Linked DNA regions of Homo sapiens: all the other regions are linked to region 1. The links come from fine-mapping of genetic effects on gene expression. A gene starts in region 1. Each other region holds a variant in brackets. All regions are shown on one strand. Distances are between the middles of the regions.

Region 1 (5,120 bases):
CTACCTTAATTTGTCAAAGCTATCATTTTCTAAACTTTTCTTTTTAATTCAAATCATTAATATTTTGTGGCCAGATCAATACTGATTCATTGTTTTAAGCTTCAAATGCATTATACAGTTGGGCAGAACACATTTCCTCTCATCAATCTTCTTTTCCAGGATTTGTCAGATATTCCTGACATTAATTCACTACTAATATGCACAGTTTCTCTAATCATGGTCAACAAAGATCTGACAGTGCATTGTCCCTAAACGACCCATACTTGCCTCACTGACACCATGTGGCCCACTTCCCATCTATAATCTATGTCTGGGTGTGAAGCCCTTCCCATATGATCCCCCGAATGGAACTTCACAAGTTCGAATTCACTGGGTCACAGTGTGATAGCGTGAAGATGGGAGGACGTTAAGGGAAGGCTATGGGTGAGTTGGGAAATGTGTTAGGCAGGGTCAGAGATTACCACATCCTAAAAACAACACTTAAGGCGGGAGATGACAAAACAATCAATGAATAACATGACTTTTTCCAGTGAAAGTGCCATATCTAATCCTTTTCCATTTTTGTTCTCTGAGCTTCTTTCTTAGGGAAGATCCTTCTTGAGAAGCCCCTGCTGAGTATTAGGAAAATGCATTTCAGGACCTCTCATCAACACACCCTCTTTCTTTACCACAACCACATATATGGGGGCATAACTCAACATGTGTAAAAGACAATCTTCTGCTTTTCACTGAACCTCCAGGAATTCAGGACAATAAACCTCTACATGCAGACCAACAGGTGAGTTTTTCTGCCCCTTCTTTCATAACACCGTTCTTCCCTAGTGAAGTCCACACACATCCTTACATGGCAGCTGTGGGTATATCAACTGGTCTGACCCCTTTTAGTCACAGAGCCTGAAGTCTGCTAGTACCTGCTGAGCACAGTGTCATGGGTGAGAATGGGCAAGGCTTTTTCTTTCTCTGGTTCCTGAACTTCCCAGGCTCTCTCACTTCTGGATCCTGAATACCCAAATCCCAAGCTTCCTTCCCAGAACCAACACCTCCTCCTCATTAGAAAGATACCTTTGTTGTGTGCTTACTTTATAAAGTCTTGCTCTTTCCCTGTCCACTGCCTTGTGTCACTATGTGTGTGTCTTGGGGCCGGTGGAAAGGTGAACAGAAGCCAGTAGAGAGTAACAAGCACCAGCTTCACAGGAATGGCATGACCTTAATACGATAGTGGCAGTTTTCCCTTAACATCCCTGCCCCCTAAAGATTTCAGATCATATGTCACACTCTTAAGTAACAGCGATTTGTCTTTCACGGTTTTAATCATATTGATTAAAAGCATTTGTCTTCTCCAGAACATCACATTAAGTCATCAAAAAATATAAACCTTAAAAAGATGTAATTATTGGAACTGAAAAACATAAAAGGTGAGCTTTGGAAATATCTTTGAGCAGTCTATTCATTATGAACACATGTAATCTGTTGGAACAAAGTTCTAGGACAATCCAGGTCATCCTTCAATATTTGCAGAAAACAGCACAAAGAAAACTTGATACTTAAACTTAGTTGGAAACTTTATGCCACAGCCATTAAATACAGAGATCATATAAAGGAATAGAGGAAGCTGTTGAATACTAAACTAACTCAAATCATCATTATCCTTACGAAGTGCACACTGAATTAATGTAAAAAGCATTTAGTAAACAAAAAGTATTTTCAATATACAATTAAGACTGAAAAGTATTGAGGCCTCATAAGCTGAACCTGACACAATAAATTTAAAAGGGAAACTAATTTGGAAATCAGAAAACCATCTAAAGAATTTGGGAATTAGGCTTCTGCTGCCCTCTCTGCTACTGACGGTCAAGGCCTCCTCATTGTATTCTGTCCTCCATATCTCTGCTGATTCCCATTTTGTCTATTTCCATTTACCCCACTACTACTTGCTCAGGTCACTCTCCTTCATTGTCGGTGTTTGTTCAAATTCCTCAGACCCATCCACTTCCCATCTAAACTTCCCTCCCCTTTTCTCGCTCGTTGGCTCTACCTCCCTCCTCTGTTTTCTCCTCACTCTCCTGCCCCACCTCGACATCCACAGCGAGGCAATGAAGAAGCCCCTGCCAAGGAAGAGCCCGCTTCTCAGTGGGACACCGGGAAGGTAAACACCCAACAGTCACCGCTAGTGGGAGGCGATTGTGCAGAAGCACGAGGGTTGTTACAGGATCGGGCAGGTCCCCTACCCCAGTCTCGGACTCAGGGTCCTGTCTGAGGCGGCCACCCCGAAGCGTGGGGTTTGCGGAGACGTAGGGCCTGGCGGAGGGAAGGATGGGGAAGCATCTCAGGGAGGACTGGCGTCTGCCGAATCCCAGGGCTGCCCTGAGGGGCCAAGAGGGGCGAGGGTGGGGACGATGGAAGACAAGCCACATGCCGAATCGGGACCTGAGGCCGCGCGCGATAGGATGGGCGGACGGTGAAGAGAACTAGGGTGGAAGGGCCGGACAGGGGCGACCTCAGTGACGGAACCGGACACAGACGCAGATCTGGCAGCTGGGCGACAGGCTTCGGAGCATTTCCGGGCGTCGCGGGACTCCCCGCCGACAGGAGGGCGGTTGCCGAGCCTGTGACATCCGCGGAGACCAGCAGACCCCGGGTGTGGAGGACGCCGCAGGAAGGGAACTGCGTGGCTGGGTTTGGCCACAAAAAGCGGAGGGCACTCACCCGAGCGGACCTCGGCTCCGGAGAATCCGTTTCCGGGTCAACAAAAAACGTCGCGCGAGGGGCGGGGCCCGTACGTGCAGGGAGGGGAGGCAGAGAAAAAGGCGGGGCCGGGCCGGGGCGGGGTCTCGGGCAGGGGCGGGGAGCTTACCGACCTCCCGCCCCCGCTGCGCGCGTTTCTGGCCCTGCCAGTGTCTCCGCCGGTTGAAAGCGCGTGTCTGCGTCGGGTTCTGTTGGAGTGCGTTCGGTGTGCCGTGGGTCCGCGCTGCTTCCACCCAACTTCCTGTTAGGTAAGAGGCGCGTGAGGCTCCTGTGCCGGGGGCGGTGCTGCTCCCGAGTCGGCGCGCGGCGGGGACGCGAGTCCGTAGGTGCTGGCGGGAGCGAGAGTCGGGTGGGGACCCTCGCGAGCCCGCACTCCGCCTCTGGGTAGCAGCCTCTTCGGCCCCACACGGCGTGACGCGCGCTCGGGCTCCGCGTTCGCGTCGAGGCAGAGGCGTAGTAGGGGTCGGGCCCAGGGCTGGAGGGGCCGGGACCGGGCGGGGTGCCGCCCTGGACACCGCGCCGGCAGCTGTTCCGCGCGGGTTCATGTCATTCCTATTTTCAACCTGTCCTGCTCCGCACCTGAGATGATTTATAAATTCGGTACCTTTGGGACAGGCGTGGATGACATCCCATAATTTACTTCGTTATTAATTTCTAAATGTAATACATACCACTATCTAAAAGTATTTTTTAATTTGAAATATATTTGTATACGTATACATGTATATTTATTTATTTCTGAATTTTATCTCGTACATATAATGAGGCTCGTAAAGTGGATACTGTTCAGGACATAGGTGGATTTTGCTTTTAAGTAGTAAAGACTTAATTGGTGACTTACTGGGGCTATTTGATAAGGATTTTTTTTTAATGAACATTAAAAACAGTGAAATTGTATTTCCGGATTTCGTTAGCTTCATTTATATCTTAATTGGTGAAAACTGTAAGTTAATAACTCATTTTTATTTCCTTTGGAGATTCTTAAGTTTGTGCTACCAATGATTATTTCCAAAAAAGGCACACTTCTGGTTTTCCCAGAACTAATGCTAGCTTCTCAATCTTTTGAGTTTACTTGATATTAATGTTTGACCTCAAATCATGTCACATTTTTGAAGAAAACTTTCTCTTAGCCAATGGAACATAAACCACCCTGGAGTTCATATAGAGGAGGGGTTCAAATGCCTCTGATAGTGTCGTGTTAAAACTCATGGCCAAACGCAAGGTCACATAGCTTTCTTTCTATGTTTCCCTCTAGAATTTGTATAGTTTTGTCATTATAAAATGGGTCTTGTCCTAGACCCCAAGAACAGGTTTTTGGATTTCACATGGGAAAGACCTTTTGGCAAGTCACAGAGTATAGTGAAGTTAAGATAGTTTATTAGTGACTACTCAGCTACATAGCAGGGCGTCCTCAGAAAGCAAGAGGAGAAATGCACCTGTTGTAAACATATAATTTTTTTTTGAGACAGAGTTTCTCTCCTGTCACAATGGCATGGTCTCGCCTCACTGCGACCTCTGCTTCCTGGGTTCAAGGATTCTCCTGCCTCAGTCTCCCAAGTAGCTGGGATTACAGGTGCGTGCCAATATACCCGGCTAATTTTTTGTGTTTTTGGTAGAGACTGGGCTTCACCATGTTGGTCAGGCTGGTCTGGAACTCCTGGCCTCAAGTGATCTGCCTGCCTCGGCTTCCCAAAGTGCTGGGATAACAGGCATGAGCCACCCGGCGCCCGGGCTTAATGTTTGTTTATATAGGTTATTAAGAATCAGTTTGTGACAGGCTATTAGTATTGTTACTTCTCTTTGTTACTGTCGATTTTAACAACAATTTATGTGTGTACTGTTACCTTTAAAGTAAAACTTATTTTTAAACTAAGAATGCTTTTTGTTCTTAAAGTTCTGGGACATTTAAATAACTTTCATGTCTTTATTAACTTGTTCCCACAATCATAAATATTTTATAACGAAAAGTGCTCAACCCCCGAAATATATAATCCAACAAATTTAACGTGTGTGTGTGTGTGACAGAGAGAGAGAGACAGGGTCTCACTCTGTCGCCCAGGCTGGAGTGCAGTGGTGCGATTATGGCTGGCTCATTGCAGCCTCGAACTCCTGGGCTCAAGCAATCCTCCCGCTTCAGCCTCCTGGGTAGCTGGGACTACAGGTATGTGCAAGCATGCCATCTAATATATATATATATTTTTTGTAGACATAAGGGTCTTGCTATTTGCCCAAGCTGGTCTTCAACTCCTGATCTCAAGTGATCCACCCGCCTTGGCCTTCCAAAGTGCTGGGATTACAGATGTGACCACTGCACCCTGCCCAGATTTAACTTTTTAAAAGCCTTTATTTGAAATAAAGTCACTGTGGTTAAGAGG
Region 2 (5,120 bases), 26 kb after region 1:
TAATTAGCTTGGAATAATTCTTAAGCCAAAGGGACATATTTTGGGGTTGCATATTCTGGTTTCCTACCATTATATTTTGGGGTGGCATATTTTGGTCTTATACACTGTGTTCCACCGGCAATGAAAAGAGTTCTTGTTTTTCCTCCAGCAATTTGTCATTTGTTAAAGAGTTTAGCAGTTCTAAGAGATATAGACCAGCTGTGCTATCTTTTTGTGGTTTTCAGTTCTCTAGTATGTTGAGCATCTTTTTGTAAGTGTACTTGCCATCTGTAGATCTTCTTTGGTGAGGCGTCTGTTCAGATCTGTGTGCATTTTTAATTGGGCTGTTTAACTTATTGTTTAGTTTTAACAATTTTTTATGTATTTTGAATACAAATTCTCAGATCTGTATTTTGCAAATATTTTCTTCAATATGTGGCTTGTCTTTTGGTTCTCTTAACAAGGTCTCTTCCAGAGTATAAACTGTAAATATTAAGAAATCCACATTGTCATTTCTTCTGTGTATATCAACCTTCTGTGTCATTTGTTAAAATTCATCACCAAACGCAAAGGCACATAGCTTTTCTTCTATAGTTTCTTCTAGAAATTGTATAGTTTTGCATTTTTAGTGTAAGGATGATTTTGAGTGGTTATTTGTGTAAGTTGTAAAGTTTTCATCTACATGCATATGATTTCTTATGGTTTCCAATTAATCATTCCCTCACTATTTTTGGGAAAGACACAGGATAGTGGGCTCTGTTAGAGTAGATAGCTAGCTAGACGTGAACAGGAGGGGGAGCTCCTGGAAAAGGGAAAGTCTGTGAAGGCTCACCTGGAGGGACCACCAAAAATGCACATATTAGTAGCATCTCCAGTGCTGGAGTGGATGGGCACTTGTCAATTGTGCTTAGGAGGGAGAAGAGGTACCTACACAGAAACACCCTAGAACTTCTCTTAAGATGCCCCAATCATCATTCACTGCAATAAAAATGTCAGAATATTGCTAGCTACATGCTGATAAGAAGGACAAAGGGGACATTCCTAAGAGAAACCTGGCACCATAAGTACAGATTAGGGCAGAGAAAGACATTCAAAAGAGGCAGGTGCAGTAGATACAAACGTGACTGCTGTCAGCCTGCCTGGGATGGCGGGAAGGAGGTTGGTGCCAGAGTGGATTCAGATTCATCACCCCACGTGTACCTCAATCAACAGGAGGTCCCACAAGCCTAAGTGGGGCAAGTCAGGGACCTAAGGCAGTAGCAGGAAAACCAAGGAAAACAAGCATAGACTTGAGACAGAGGCAGGAATGTGAAGAAGTCCAAAATAAAATTCCCTGCACAGGACTCTTAGGCTGTTTTCATGCACTATGAACCCACTCCTCCCTATTTTCCTACAATAAGCTCTTTACACTGTATTTCTTTTCAATGAAGTTATCTTCCATCTTTGTACTGCCTCTTGGTGAAAATCTTTCTTCCAAGTTAATAACTGGGACATCAGCTCTCCCCAGTAATAGCTCCTTTTCAGTTTTCATTTACAGAACTGATGGGGATTAATAACTGGCGCTCTGACTTTAAGTGGTGCAGGAGGCGGCCAGTAGGGGACGCCAGCCGTCACACCGGGAGCAAGAGGGCCCTGCTTAGTCCCCATCTGCCTGCATGTGGCGTGCAGCCACGACAGTGTCAGCAAGAGGGCCCGGCAGTGTCCCTAGCTGCCAGCAGGGGGCGAACAACGACTACACTGTGAGCAAGAGGGCCCTGCAGTGTCCTTAGCTGCCAGGAGGTGGCGTAGGGGCACCACACCATGAACAAGAGGACCGTGCAGTGCCCTGGTTGCCAGCAGGGGGCGTGCTGCCACTACACTGAGCAAGAGGATCCTGTAGTGCCCCCAGCGGACAGAAGAGGGCGTGCCCCGACTACACTGCAAGCAAGAGGGCCCGGCAGTGTCCCCAGCTGCCAGCAGGGGAGCAGCCGCCACTACACTTGGAGCAAGAGGGCCCGGCAGTGTCCCCAGCTGCCAGCAGGCGGGTGTGCTGCCACTACAATGTGAGCAAGAGGGCCCTGCAATGTCCCTAGCTGCCAGCAGGCGGCGTGCCGCCAGTATACTGCGAGCAAGAGAGCCCTGCCGTGCCCCGTCGCCAGCAGGAGGCGCTGGACACCACTGTAAGGAAGAGGGCCCTGAAGTTGCCCTAGTTGCCAGCAGGGGGCGCAATGGCACAGCACCGTGGGCAAGCAGGTCCTGTAGTGCCCGGGTACAAGCAGGGGGCACCCGAACCGGGCTTTTCAGATTACTCAGGTTCCACCCGTCTGTGCGCTGCGCCGCCGGGGACGTGTGTCTCTGCGCCTGCACCTCGCCATTCCCGCGCTCCCCGCCCGGCGGCGTGCAACTGTACACCTGCAACACGCCCCGCCATCCTGAGCCCAGCGACGTGCGTCTCTGCGCCTGCGCCTGCGCCGCGCCTCACTCCCGCCCGCCCAGCGACCCCTCCCCTCCGGGGACGCGGAGGCGTGCGTCTATGCCCTGCGCCGCGTCTCCCGAACAGCTCCTGCGCCGGCGCG[C/G]CGCGCCTCTCTGCGCCAGCGCCGGCGCGCCGTGCCTTTGCGAGAGCGGAGTTGGGTTCTCCTCAGCACAGACGCGGAGAGCATCGCGAGGGCGGAGCTGCGTTCTCATCTGCACAGATTTCAGTGGTACTGCGAAGGCGGAGCAGAGTTCTCCTCAGGTCAGACCCGGGCGGGCGGGCTGAGGGCACCGCGAGGGCGGAGCTGCGTTCTGCTTAGCACAGACCTGGGGGACACCGTAAAGGTGGAGCAGCATTCTCCTAAGCACAGACGTTGGGGGCACTGCCTGGCTTTGGGACAACTCGGGGCCGCATCGACGGTGAATAAAATCTTTCCCGGTTGCAGCCGTTAATAATCAAGGTCAGAGACCAGTTAGAACGGTTCAGTGTGGAAAACGGGAAACCAAAAGCCCCTCTGAATCCTGCGCACCGAGATTCTCCCAAGTCAAGGCGAGGGGCTGCATTGCAGGGGCCAACTGCAGTGTCGGAACACAAATGCAGCATTCCTAATGCACACATGACACCCAAAATATAATACCCACATTGCTCATGTGGTTTAGGGTTAGGGTGAGGGTTAGGGGTTAGGGGTTAGGGTTGGGGTTGGGGTAGGGTTAGGGTTAAGGGTTAGGGTTAGGGGTTAGGGTTAGGGGTTAGGGTTAGGGTTCGGGTTCGGGTTCGGGCTAGGGGTAGGGTTAGGGTTAGGGGTTAGGGTTTAGGGTTAGGGGTCGGGGTCAGGGTCGGGTTGGGGTTGGGGTTGGGTTTAGGGTTGGGGTTGGGGTTAGGGGTTAGGGGTTAGGGATAGGGGTTAGGGGTTAGGGTTAGGGGTTAGGGTTAGGGTTAGGGTTAGGGTTAGGAGTTAGGGGTTAGGAGTTAGGTTTAGGTTTAGGGGCTAGGGTTAGGTTTGGGTTAGGGTTGGGTTAGGGGCTAGGGTTAGGGTTAGGGTTGGGTTATGGTTAGGGTTGGGTTAGGGTTAGGGTTTGGGTTAGGATTAGGGTTAGGGGTTAGGGTTAGGGTTAGGATTAGGGGTGAGAGTTAGGGTTACGGTACTGTAAATAATTTCACATTATTACTAATAATAAATTATTATTTGTATTACACTGTTACGTAATGTAAACGCTATTAAGACATGTTTTTCTTCAAAGAATGGCCTTGGTTTCTGTGGGCTGTGCCTCGTCATGGAAGGGTAATGCATTCCTGCTAAATCATGGACAAAACGGGCTTCCAGGAGCTACAGGCCCCTGCAGCAGCAGCTTCTCCTCTACGTCCTTCACTGCCTCAAACTGTTGTTGACTTTGAAAGCTTCTTTCAGTCTAGTTTTATCAACAGAGCTAGTATTTCATGAGGTTCTACTACATACCAGGTTCCAGAAAGCTAAATGCCTTTTGTTATTATTCACTAAATACAAATCACAACTCTCTCCTCATTACTCACACAACAAAATTTAGCTGAGGGAGATTGAGTGACTTTCCCAGGGTCACATAGCTACTAAGAGCAGAGTCGTGTTTAGATTCATGTGGGAATATTGAACACAGAAATGAACCAGTGGAAACATCCTATGTTCCAAAAGCCTACTCAAGGCATTTCTTCTTATTTTAAGGAAAATCTTTATGCTAATTTTAAACTCCAAATACTTATGAATGGCAGAGATCTACAGATTTGATTCTGATGTAAGAAATGATGGTCACCAGCTGGTTACTGCTACCACCCCACAACCCCGAGCATACTGGACGAATGTCTAAGCCTTGTGGTTAGTGGGGACAATGCTGGTGGAGTCTGAAGTTGTCATGCAGTGACTCATGCAAGCTTAGGCAGATTTGGTAATATATGACACAGAGATGCAAAGAAATGTTGTAGCTGACACACACAGGCTGGCTCTGGGAGATGCAGAAGGAGCACGTCACCCAAAATAGAGCCAGACAAGACATCCTTAAGGAAGGAGCAAAAGGGCTGCATCTTAAAGAATGTAGAAAGGATTTGTCATGAGAGATGGGGCAGGAAGTTCTTGAGAGGCAGAGGGAGAGCATGAGAATGTTAGGAAGGGAGGAGAGATTCTCACACATCTGGGAAGCTGACAATCCATCAGCATGGCCAGAAGGAAAATAAGGAGGAGGAGCAGAAATAGATGAGGCTGGATATAGAAGCAGGGCTGAAGCTGTGTCGATTGTGGTAAAGAGTTGTGATTCTATCCAGAACGCAATAGGTAGCATTCTAAACAGAGATCTTTTCAAACAAGAGTCAGCAAGTATTTTCTGCAGGAGGCTAAATGTTAAATATTTTAAGTTTTCCAAGCCATATGGTCTCTCTCTCAATGACTCAGCTCTTCCATTATACCATGAAAGTAGCCAGAGACATTATGTAACACATGTATTGGCTGTGTCCTATTACAACTTTACTTACAAACGCAGACTGTGTCAGACATGGTCCATGCATGGTAGTTTGCCACACCCTGTTTTAGAAAGCTCAGGTTTATGATGTGATGGAGAATGCCTACAAGAGCTCTTGTTTTAAATGGTAGAGTGAACATACACTGGAATTCTATCCTGCTTGACCCAAGCTCTTGATAGCAAAAGGTAGAAAAGATAGATGGTAA
Region 3 (5,120 bases), 60 kb before region 1:
GCTTCATTTCTAAGATGGTTTTCTCTGCACAGCTGTAACAAAGCTCAGGGCTTGCATGATGCTTTGCAGCCAGTACATCAGAGAGGACTTTCCCTCAAGACTTCTGGCAAAAGTTGGGGTAACTTGCTGTTCTTGCTGGGGTCAGGAGCCGTCTTGCACCAATCTCAGAGGCCAGGGGATGGAGAACTCTCCTAGGGTAGTCCCAGGTTCTGTGCCTCCCCTGAAAACACAAGGTCGGAGCCTCCCCATCCAAATTAATGCTCAGACTGTCAGGGAGGAATGACTTCCAAAGAAAAACCAAGGGCCCTTATGAAGAAAAGGAAGGGGTGCACCTACAGTTGCCACTTCTGTTTGGAAGTGAGGGAGGGGAGGGCAGATTCCCTTGGCTTGTTCCCTAGGACAGCTGTACTTAGGTTTTACTACACAGTCCCCTGAAAATGCTTCTCTCATTAGTGTTGTGCCTCTCTCATGCCTCTTTCCTTGGATAAAGAGCAACCACATTACGAGCCACACTTGGTGCTGGTGCTGTGGCATGCAACACTACCTAATGCGAGAGAAAGATGTGAGCAAATATCTGGAATATACAAATATAATACAAAAATACAAATATAATCAGTTATACAGCAAACAGCTGTGGGAACAGCAGCTCTGCTTGCAGGGTTGGGTAGTGGAAGGTTGAGTTGATAGCATTTGGATTGGGCTTTGAAGTATGACTAGGAGCTTACCAGATAGAGAAGTGGTGTTTGGACATTGTATGAGAAGGAAACACAATCTGAGAAGGTGTACCATCCTAAGTGAATCTGTCACAGAAGCGAGAAGATGCTGTGTAAACCGGAATAATGCTTGTGAGCATGGATCTTGATCCCTTCGTGAGCAATAAATGATTTTGTGAATAAATTGAAAAATGCTAAATTAGATCATAGGATGTGTTTGCAGGGGTGGGGAGAGAGGAGAGCGTCGAAACTGGGGAAGTGGGGAACCAGAGATGGCAAAGCCTGGGACTTCCAGCTTCACCCACAGGACGCGAGGAGCCTCATCAGTATCACCCGCACAAGCAAGCTCCCATGAAGGCAGCGGTGTCCAGGCTCTGTCGCGTCCTTTCTTTGCAGCCTGGGCCTTGGTTTCTTGCAGGTGCTATGCCCAAAGGTTAGATTGACAGATGTGGCCGTGTCTATCAGGGAACATGGACTGAGGTCGGTGCTTTCAAGCACACTCACTTTTCACTGTGTTCAGAGGGGGTGGGAAACCTCCCCTAAGGAGGAGATATGACGTGTGCAGATTGAGAGCTGGGGCCACACGGATTCCTCCAGGGGCAAGGGCTGGTGACCTTGCAGTAACTTCCAGAGGCCTCAGCACCCTCCTCTGCACAATGGTGTTGGGCTAGCCAGGGCACCACAGAAAGGGTCAGCAAGGCACACCCTCGTCTATTGCCCAGGCACACATGGGCATCCATGACAGCCATGCACGTGTTAGAGCCTGACCAGAGCTGCAGCCTCCTTTGGCTGAGGTTGGAAAAGCGGAGATGTGTTCACAGTTGGAGAATTGGTATGCCTTAGCCAAGTGACATCCCTGTCCTTGGAAACTTATTCTGGGGTCACAGAATTAATTCCCCAGGATTGGGTGTCACGAGGAGGTGGTTCCTGTGGCTGAAAACCACCAACACCTCCTTTCCTGGAACATTTCCCTCCTGGCATAGGGCAGTTCTCATGCCAGAACATCTTGGGCCACAAAGAACCTTTAGGACTGAGTATGTCCTTCTGTTTGCTTTAAGCTTTTAAGAAAAAGAATATGCAGAGGCTGACTGAGGCAAAAATACAGGCTATTTCTGACGTTCATTCAGAATGCCACCTACCTAGGCCAGTTATTGGACTGTATGCCAGCCTCTTTCTGCGGGATGTAATCTCAATGTCTTTAAGTTCAGTCAGTCCTATAAATTGCTATCCCTATTCACGCAGTGTGTTTTCCCCTGTGTGAGGCATTTGTGAGTTCCATTAGCACTGATGGGACTTTTAAATGCAGAAGCAGCAGTGAAGGGAAGGGCATTTCCCAGCTGTAGGGCACGGGCCTTCTTTGAGATAAAAACCCACCCTGGCATCGATGACATGGGACCTATTCTGTGTCTTTTCACCCGAGAGCTCTTCAATCAACTGATGATCGCACCTGCATAACTGCTACCAGACCTGCTAAGGGGGAGCCTGGCCCAGCCATCTCTTCTTTGTGGTCACAAGCATGAATGGCCCTGGGACATCCTCTTTCCTCACTGTCCCCTCACAGCATTTCCTGACCACTGTGGCCTTGGTCCCACCACCCACCTGTGTGGCTCATCTGGCCATGCACCTCTCCAGCTCACAACTCTGTTTTCTCCCTGTTGTTTCTATGAAACCAGGTTCCAGCCCCGCCACACAGTCTGCACGGCCTCCACCACAGCTCTGGTGAGCCTCTTGGCCAGCTCCTGGTGACAGCGTGCACCTCCCTGCTCTGAGAAGGTCTCCCTCTCCTCTCTGCCCACCCTGTACAGAGACATCTTTCAAGACCAT[C/G]CCAGAGGAGAGTGGCCTCTCTCCTCCACCCCAAGAGGATGGCCTCTCCTGTGGCTGTCACTCATCTGACCCCTACCACAGACCTGAGGGCAAGTGGTGCTCACGGGCCCACATCTGCCAGCCTGCGCCTGGTTGGAGACGCCTCCCTCTCATTTGTCCTTGCTTGCTGCGTGACTTTGGCAAGTGCTTGCCTCTTTGAGACCCTCAGTTTTCACACCTGAGAAGTAGAAAGGCGGTGCCTGCCCCAGCTGCCCCGCAGAAGAGTTTAGGTGGCATGTGAGAAAATGCCTTATGAACTACGATGTGAGCAACTGCAGCATGCTGTGAACACCGCTTTCATGAGCTCCTCGGGGGCAGGGTAACACCCAAGTATTCTTACACCTCCCACCGGGCTTGTCACGACCGTATGCAAATGAAGGCCATCAAGCGTGTTTGATCAGTGATGTATTTCTTTATTTTTAGTTTTAGGATATGACAACTCTATTTTTAGCAGCTACAGCGGCCAAAACTTTGTTACCTCTCAGCAGTTGTGTGTTCTTCGAGAGTAGGTTTTGTGCTTTCAAAATATCTGAATCCTCTACCATTTACAGGTGTTCTGTACATATTTGGTGTATGAGTTGCTCAGGAAGGAAGAAAAATGTGCCCTGTTTATCTTTTAAAAAGATGGCTTGGCTTGGTACTCCTTTGCCTGCATTCCTTCTCTGTATTTAGAAACGAACCCACACAAGTGAAGGTAAACGAAGTCTCTTGAAAGATAAGGCAGGAAAAATGAGGATAGAAAACAAAATCCCTTTAGAGAGTTTACTTGGAGGCTACCACTGGCATCGCTGCTCTGCAGTCTATCAGCCAGAGGCCCCTGGTGCTGCAGCACGGCCTTGGCAGCTTCACCAACAGGAATGTGTTCTCCTAGGGTACTGGCGGGTGGCAGTCCCAGAGCAAGGTGTGGCAGGGCTGGTCCTCCTGAGGCCTCTCCCTGGCTTGCAGACGACATCTTCTCCCATGTTCTCATGTGGTCCTCCCTCTGCACACGCATATCTGACATCCTCCCATGTCCTCACACGTTCCTCTCTCTGCACTCGAAGCCCGGACATCCTCCTATGTCCTCACATGGTCCTCCCCCTGCACTCACATCCCTGACGTCCTCCCGTGCCCTCACGTGGTCCTCCCTCTGCACTCACATCCCTGACGTCCTCCCGAGCCCTCACGTGGTCCTCCCTCCGCACTCACATCCCTGACGTCCTCCCATGCCCTCACGTGGTCTTCCCCCTGCACTTGCATCCATGACGTCCTCCCATGCCCTCACGTGGTCCTCTCTCTACACTCACATCCCTGACATCCTCATGTGCCCTCACGTGGTCCTCTCTCTGCACTCACATCCTGACGTCCTCCTGTGCCCTCACGTGGTCCTCTCTCTACACTCACATCCCTGACATCCTCATGTGCCCTCACGTGGTCCTCTCTCTGCACTCACATCCCTGACATCCTCCTATGTCCTCACGTGGTCCTCCCCCTGCATTTGTATCCCTGATGTCCTCCCGTGCTCTCACGTAGTCCTCCCTCTACACGCACATCCATGATGTCCTCCCGAGCCCTCACGTGGTCTTCCCTCTACACGCGCATCCCTGACGTCCTCCCAAGCCCTCACGTGGTCCTCCCTCTACACGCGCATCCCTGACATCCCTTCGCCTTCTCCTGGGGACATCACTCCCATTGGCTCAGGACCCTCCCTTGTGGTCTCACCTAACCTTCATCACCTGTTTGAAGACCCCATTTCCAAAGACAGCCACATTAAGGGTTAGGGCTTCAACATAGGGCTTTGGCAGGACACAATTCAGCTGATTGCAGAGTCCAAATATCTCAGGCTTCTAAACATGAGTATGACATTGTGGACCTCTATCAGCAGAGACACTTTCGAGAGAATCTGGCTGAACTGTGGTGTCCACATGTCGATATTCTATTAGGTTCACAACAGGGAGTCCTCCATTTCAGAAGGATACGAGCCTTTCTGATGTTGACGTGTGGCTGGCCATCTGCTCTGGGGGTGGCAAGGCCGCTCTGCATGGGTGCCCATCCTCTTGTGGATGTCCTAGGAGTGCTTGTGTGCACCTGTGTGTGTGTTTGTGTGCACGTGTGTGTGTGCACACATGAGTGGGATGGGGACCCTGGGGACAAGAGTCAGAAAAGGAAAGGAAGAGGGAAGAAGGAGGGATTAGTATTAGCCCTCGTTATCATTACCATGGATACACCCTAATTACAGCAACTGCTGATTCAGAGCCGTGTGCCTTGAATGCCAATCTCTAGAGGAAAATAATGGAGACTCTGAAAGAGGGAGGAGAAATGAGGACAGAACTTCAGAGGGGGCAAGATGTATAATACACAGACGTTAACGCCCATTTGGTCGATTCAAGTAATTGTAGAAATGAACTCATTTTCATTCTTGTGTCATTATCTTAGGTATCCTGAAAACAATGTGCTTTCATTTTCTCATTTAAATTTGCACTTGTCTTTCTCAGGTTTTTGTGTCTGTTTCTGCTGTAAAACTTAAAATATATCCTAAATTACCTGGTCCTCCTCTTATTTTCC
Region 4 (5,120 bases), 37 kb before region 1:
CATAAATTTGCTGTGTGTTCTTGCACTACCAACTTTAATAATAATGTCTTTGCATGCCATCTATTCTCTCATGGGCAATAACACAGATACAAACGGTCCTGAGTGCTCAGCGCTGCTGGGTTTTGGGGTCTGCTTTAGGGGAAACATTTCCAAAACCTGCCATCCGGTGCGTTTGCTCTTCTGAAAAACGTCCCCAGAACCAGCGGCCGCCTGGCCTCTGGGGCGCCCCGCAGGTCGTGTGAATACACATGTGGAGTGACTGAAACGGATGCTTATGGCTACTTTCCCACCCTGGAGGAGACTCTGCCATCTGGGTTTGGGCTAAAGTCGAGGTAGTGTGTGAATCTGATTTCCCCCTTTATGTAATGAGCTGTTTTCCTGATCTGTGGACCTGTTATGTCATGGCTTTGATGAACAAGAATAAAAAAGGTAAGTGAGAAAACAAACAAAATGAATATATCTGTAGGAATTCAGTGCTCTCGAAGAACTGCAACTCACTGCCTTCTCAAATCTCAGATACCACTATTTAAAGAAGATAGGATGTGGTTAAAAATAAGTAACGCAACGATTTCTGAGTGTCCATATTGGGTAACTGTTGACTATAAGCCTCAGGTATTGCTTCTTTTGTGTGTGTCTCCATTGTTGTGTTTAACCCAACTGACCAATTTAGAAAATGTAATATTCTTTTGATATTCCAAAAATTTTTGAAAATTAATTCAAAAATGATTAGGTATGATTTTCACTAGAAGGCAAATAACATCAAAAAGGTATTTTAATGAGAAACGTCATCATTAGATATTCTTTTAGATTTTTTCCTTTGGAATTGCAGATGTTTCTGAAAACAGCAAACTGGTATCATGATTTCAGAGTGAAAATGTGGGGACAGAGGTGGGCGGGAGGAAACAGCCTTGGTAGGAAGTGGACACAGGCCTAGAGCTGGAGCTGGGGAGCCTGCAGGCTCTGGTGTGGGATTTGTTTAGCAGTGCAGGGGCAGGTGCTTCTCACTGCCCCTCCCCTCACTCCACTCTCAGAGCCCCCACTGCAGATCTTTGGTTGGTGCTCTTCAGAACCTGTCACACTTTCCCAGGAAGAATTGGTCTCATTTTCTTAACAGTTTGCACAGGTCTTCCATGCCCTGTTGTGTTCCCCAGTGCGACATTTCTCTCATTGCATGTAGTGATCAGTTTAGGGTTTGTCGTCTGCTCTGTGTGGTGAGGCTGGAGGGCTCGAACTGTGTCTTGTCACTTTCTATATCTCTGGTGCTAAATCTCAAGGAGACGTACAATCTGTCTCTTTTTTAAAATTAATTGTTTGATCCCCTTCGCCCATATGGCCCAAAGTGACCTAGTCCATCATGAATTCCCCCAGGCCTCTGGTTCCTCCTTTTCCATTTACCCAGGTGCTCACCCCACGCACTGTCCTGTCCAGGAACTCTGATCTGCTCCACGTCCTTACTCAAGCCCTGTCACAGTGCCGTCTCTGACTCCCCTGATGTCACCAGTTGTGGTTTCCCTCATCTCCTCGGGTATTTAGGGATCACAGCATTCACTTGTACATTGCACTTGCCCCCCTGCCCTGCCCCCACCAACCGACTTCCTTCTCCAGGAACACAAATCCTACATAGTGAATTGTAAATTTTCAAGTATTACTCTGATCTGTCCTATGTCGGGGAGCTGGCTGGCGCCAGGGGGATGTGTGTCTGGCCCAGCTTTGGCACTGCTCCCTGTGAGTCTGGGTAAGTCCCCTCCCGACTCTGGGCCTTGGTTTAGCCCCTTGAAAATGTTAGGTTGTTTGCTTGATCACATCCGTTCTCTAGAGTTCTGTGTATCTGAAAATCAATGCAGCTGTGTATATTTTTCTTGATAAGCCCCGAGCTTATCCATGGGGCTCTGATCTTGAATAGCGCTTCAGTACAATATTTGATACAAATTTGAGCAAAATCCAGTGAGATATTTTTAAGCTATGTAAGTGTGATTTCTCCTCACTTCAACGAAGCATTATAATTTACATGACTATGTGTACATCTAAAGCGTCTGTCGTGGTTTTGACCTCTGTGACATTGTAGTCTTTACCAGGTGGTCAAAGCCATCCTCAGCTTAATGAAAACCAACTATGTGTTCCTAAAATTATGAAAGTTCAAAATGATAGTGGTCATTTCAGTTGACAGAAAAAACCGTTTGTGTTCAATTTTTTAGTCACCTCAGCAAATACTCTCTCCATTATCACTGCCTTTCTCAAAGCAGATCTTGAAGTGACAGAGCCTACTGTTTTGAATATAGTTGTCTGCCCTAATTTTTAAAAAGTCTCTAGTTGCAAAAATTACATTGTTGTTAAGGTTGAGAATGTATGAACTCAAGGCAGTCTGCAA[C/A]TGTGGTGCCAAAGCTCCTTACATTGGTATTCAAACAATGTAACTTTGCTGTCAACATGTAGGATAGATACTTTCCCTCCCTCCCTCTCTTTCTTTTTGCTCTTTGTTCAGTGGTGGTGTTATGTGGATAAGGGAACACATTACTCCTTACACATCGTCTTTATACAACATACATTCAGGCTCAGATTCAACGGCTATCCACTGCTTGCTAACACCTTTTTGAGCATATGACATCTATCAGGTAGCTGCATAGGGTTTAGGTCTAGTTATTCATGGATTCTGCATAGGAGCTCAGCCTCTGATAAGATCTGTGACAATGCTCATCACTTACCTGTCTCTTCATATTCCTGTCTTGATATTCCATTTTTACTCTATAATTTTCTATCTTCATTTGGTTTTATGTTATTAAATACTTCATTGTAAACTGTTTCAACTCTTTTCTGGAACAGGGTGGCACAGAAACAAACCTCTAACTCTTCTCATCCTTCTTTTTTTCTTGGGGGAGGGTGGTTATTTCTGAATTTTATTTTTATTTTATTTTATTTTAAGTTATGGGATACATGTATAAGATGTGCAGGTTTGTTACACAGGTAAACGTGTGCCATGGTGGTTTGCTGCACCTATCAACCCATCACTTAGGTATTAAGCCCTGCATCCATTAGCTATTTTTCCTGGTGCTCTCCCTCTCCCCGCTCCACCCCCACAACAGGTCCCAGTGTGTGTTGTTTCCATCCCTGTGTCCATGTGTTCTCATTGTTCAGTTCACACTTGTAAGTGAGACTGCGTGGTGTTGGGTCTTCTGTTTCTGTGTTAGTTTGCTGAGGATAATGGCTTCCGCCTCCATTCATATCCCTGCAAAGGACATGATCACATTCCTTTTATGGCTGCATAGTATTCCCTGGTGTATATGTACCACGTTTTCTTTATCCAGTCTATCATTGATGGGCATTTGGGTTGATTCCATGTCTTTGCTATTGTGAATAGTGCTGCAATGAACACACACGTGCATGTATCTTTATAATAGAATGTTTTATATTCCTTTGAGTATAGACACAGTAATGGGACTGCTGGGTCAAATGGTATTTCTGGTTCTAGGTCTTTGAGGAATCACCACACTGTCTTCCCCTAACCAAATTTAAAACAGTTAACAATTTATAAAATAATGTATTCCTCTTTTCAAATTATCCAAATTCAATGAAACATTTCATGTGGAAACTAAAATTTGCTGGACAAAAATTGTACCTCACAGTTAACAGTCTGTTTCACTAACATTTGTGCATAAAACCTATATATCTGAAGGAAAAAATGCCTAAAAGCAAAGATAATATGAGGGTAGCCATGGGGAAAACAGAAATTGGCACCAAAATCCTTGAAAAGTATCCTAACCCATGCTGTTTCACGTTTACACTTTACTCAATTTACCTTTATCAGAGGGGCCAGAAACAATCAATTCAACTTCATTGACCCTATAATTTACAAAGGAATAGCGTATGTATTGGCTTTGGGGTTTCTAAGAAATAGTAAAAGGATAAATAGTGAATTGGTCACCTAATCGGGAAAGGTGGTTCCTTGGTAAGATGATAATTTCAGGTGTGAATGACCACAGTGTATTCCTCTGCCCACTCCTTCAGCCTCATAGCCTCAGGCAAGGTGGCCACTTCAATAGAACCCTGCAAAGTCAGAGGGCCTGAGTTCAAGCCCTAACGCCTTTGTCTCTCTGATTTACCCACTCTGACACAAGGCAGGCTTCTCACTTCTCAGAGTGTTTCCTCATTAGGAGTCTGATAATAATTCAGATATTACCTCCCAAGGGAAAAGAGGAAATAATATATACAACAATGCTTTATATAGTATACCTTGATATCCCTAAATCATTATATTTCTGGATGCTTTTCCTGAAGCAAATGTTTGGCTGGACTACCAAAGTCAGTAATTTCATAGGCTTTTCTCAAGTATTTGTCGTAACTACTGTCGTCTCCATTTTACCTAAAACATTAATTTTCCCATGAGAATACACCAGAGGTTCTATAATTGTACTGCTAGACTTAATTTCTCACCCTTTCCCCCTTAGTCTTTGAATAAAACAATTTCTATACATTTATTGAAAACTCTAAGTCTGAATTATTTGATAACATTAATGTTGATTTCAGATACAGATAGATATATTTCTTCAGCCAAGTCATGATATTTTGGTGTGGAAAACAATACTCCTAATTCTCTGTTTGTCCTTTCATCCTATGGTGAAAACTTCAAGCACACTATAATTTATTCATGCCTTACCGTAGTCCTTCATGCCTTTATACTCTTATTAAATGTCTTTTAAATTAATTTTTATTACATGGTAATACATGCACATAGAAAAAATTAAGAATTCCAAAGGTTATGAAATGAAATATAAGGTTTTGTGTCCTTCCCCACTCTTCTATTTCTACTCCCACTCTTAGCAGTTGAAGAATCCCTCCACAAAAATATCATGTCTATCTAAGCATGTCCACATGGATTTGGCTTCACATTATGGGCTCTGTCAACTAAAACTGTTCTGTGCTGTGGTCTTCTGGTCTAGCGATTATCCAGGCTGCATTTCCACAGGAGCACAGGAAATCTGCCCCACTCTGCCCAGCCCCCAACCAGGTTGTTCCCAACATCCCACAGAGAGTGCCCCCTACATCCTCCTCCAGGGTCCCCCTGGCCACCCTTGTCCCCAAAGCCCACCTGCCAGTCCTCCCACGTCCCACCCAATCCCCTCCCCCAT

Alleles and levels. Alleles are on the strand shown, and positions count from the first base shown. SD is a standard deviation of normalised expression in the study named. Not every link is listed here.
With allele C in place of G in region 2, the expression in monocytes of the gene that starts at base 2,666 in region 1 is higher (moderate effect, 0.67 SD a copy in BLUEPRINT).
In carriers of allele C in region 3, the expression in breast of the gene that starts at base 2,666 in region 1 tends to be higher than with G alone (small effect, 0.21 SD a copy in GTEx).

Evidence for each region. PIP is the estimated chance that this variant, and not a neighbour inherited with it, causes the effect. A credible set is the group of variants that fine-mapping cannot tell apart.
Region 2: its variant is the best candidate, but not a certain one, in a credible set for the expression of ZNF596 in monocytes (BLUEPRINT, PIP 0.57).
Region 3: its variant is the best candidate, but not a certain one, in a credible set for the expression of ZNF596 in breast (GTEx, PIP 0.52).
Region 4: its variant is the best candidate, but not a certain one, in a credible set for the expression of ZNF596 in sun-exposed skin (GTEx, PIP 0.88).

Annotation. Positions count from the first base shown.
Region 1 is chr8:230,002-235,121 of GRCh38, reverse strand. It overlaps ZNF596 (zinc finger protein 596), which reads right to left and starts at 2,666. Exons shown (of 6, transcript NM_001042416.3): 1 at 2,428-2,666. It also overlaps the pseudogene RPL23AP53. RefSeq lists an enhancer at 2,460-2,779 and a silencer at 2,800-2,899.
Region 2 is chr8:203,703-208,822 of GRCh38, reverse strand. LOC124902051 (a long non-coding RNA gene) reads left to right here and starts at 3,543. Exons shown (of 2, transcript XR_007061161.1): 1 at 3,543-5,120. It also overlaps the pseudogene RPL23AP53. RefSeq lists silencers at 1,575-1,797, 1,922-2,001. The variant C/G (reference allele first, on the strand shown) is at 2,535.
Region 3 is chr8:289,583-294,702 of GRCh38, reverse strand. No RefSeq gene overlaps it. Among named protein-coding and RNA genes, the nearest start is that of ZNF596, 60 kb to the right of the region's middle. RefSeq lists an enhancer at 2,951-3,070. The variant C/G (reference allele first, on the strand shown) is at 2,538.
Region 4 is chr8:267,117-272,236 of GRCh38, reverse strand. All of the region lies in intron 1 of LOC101927566 (a long non-coding RNA gene), which reads left to right. Among named protein-coding and RNA genes, the nearest start is that of ZNF596, 37 kb to the right of the region's middle. The variant C/A (reference allele first, on the strand shown) is at 2,369.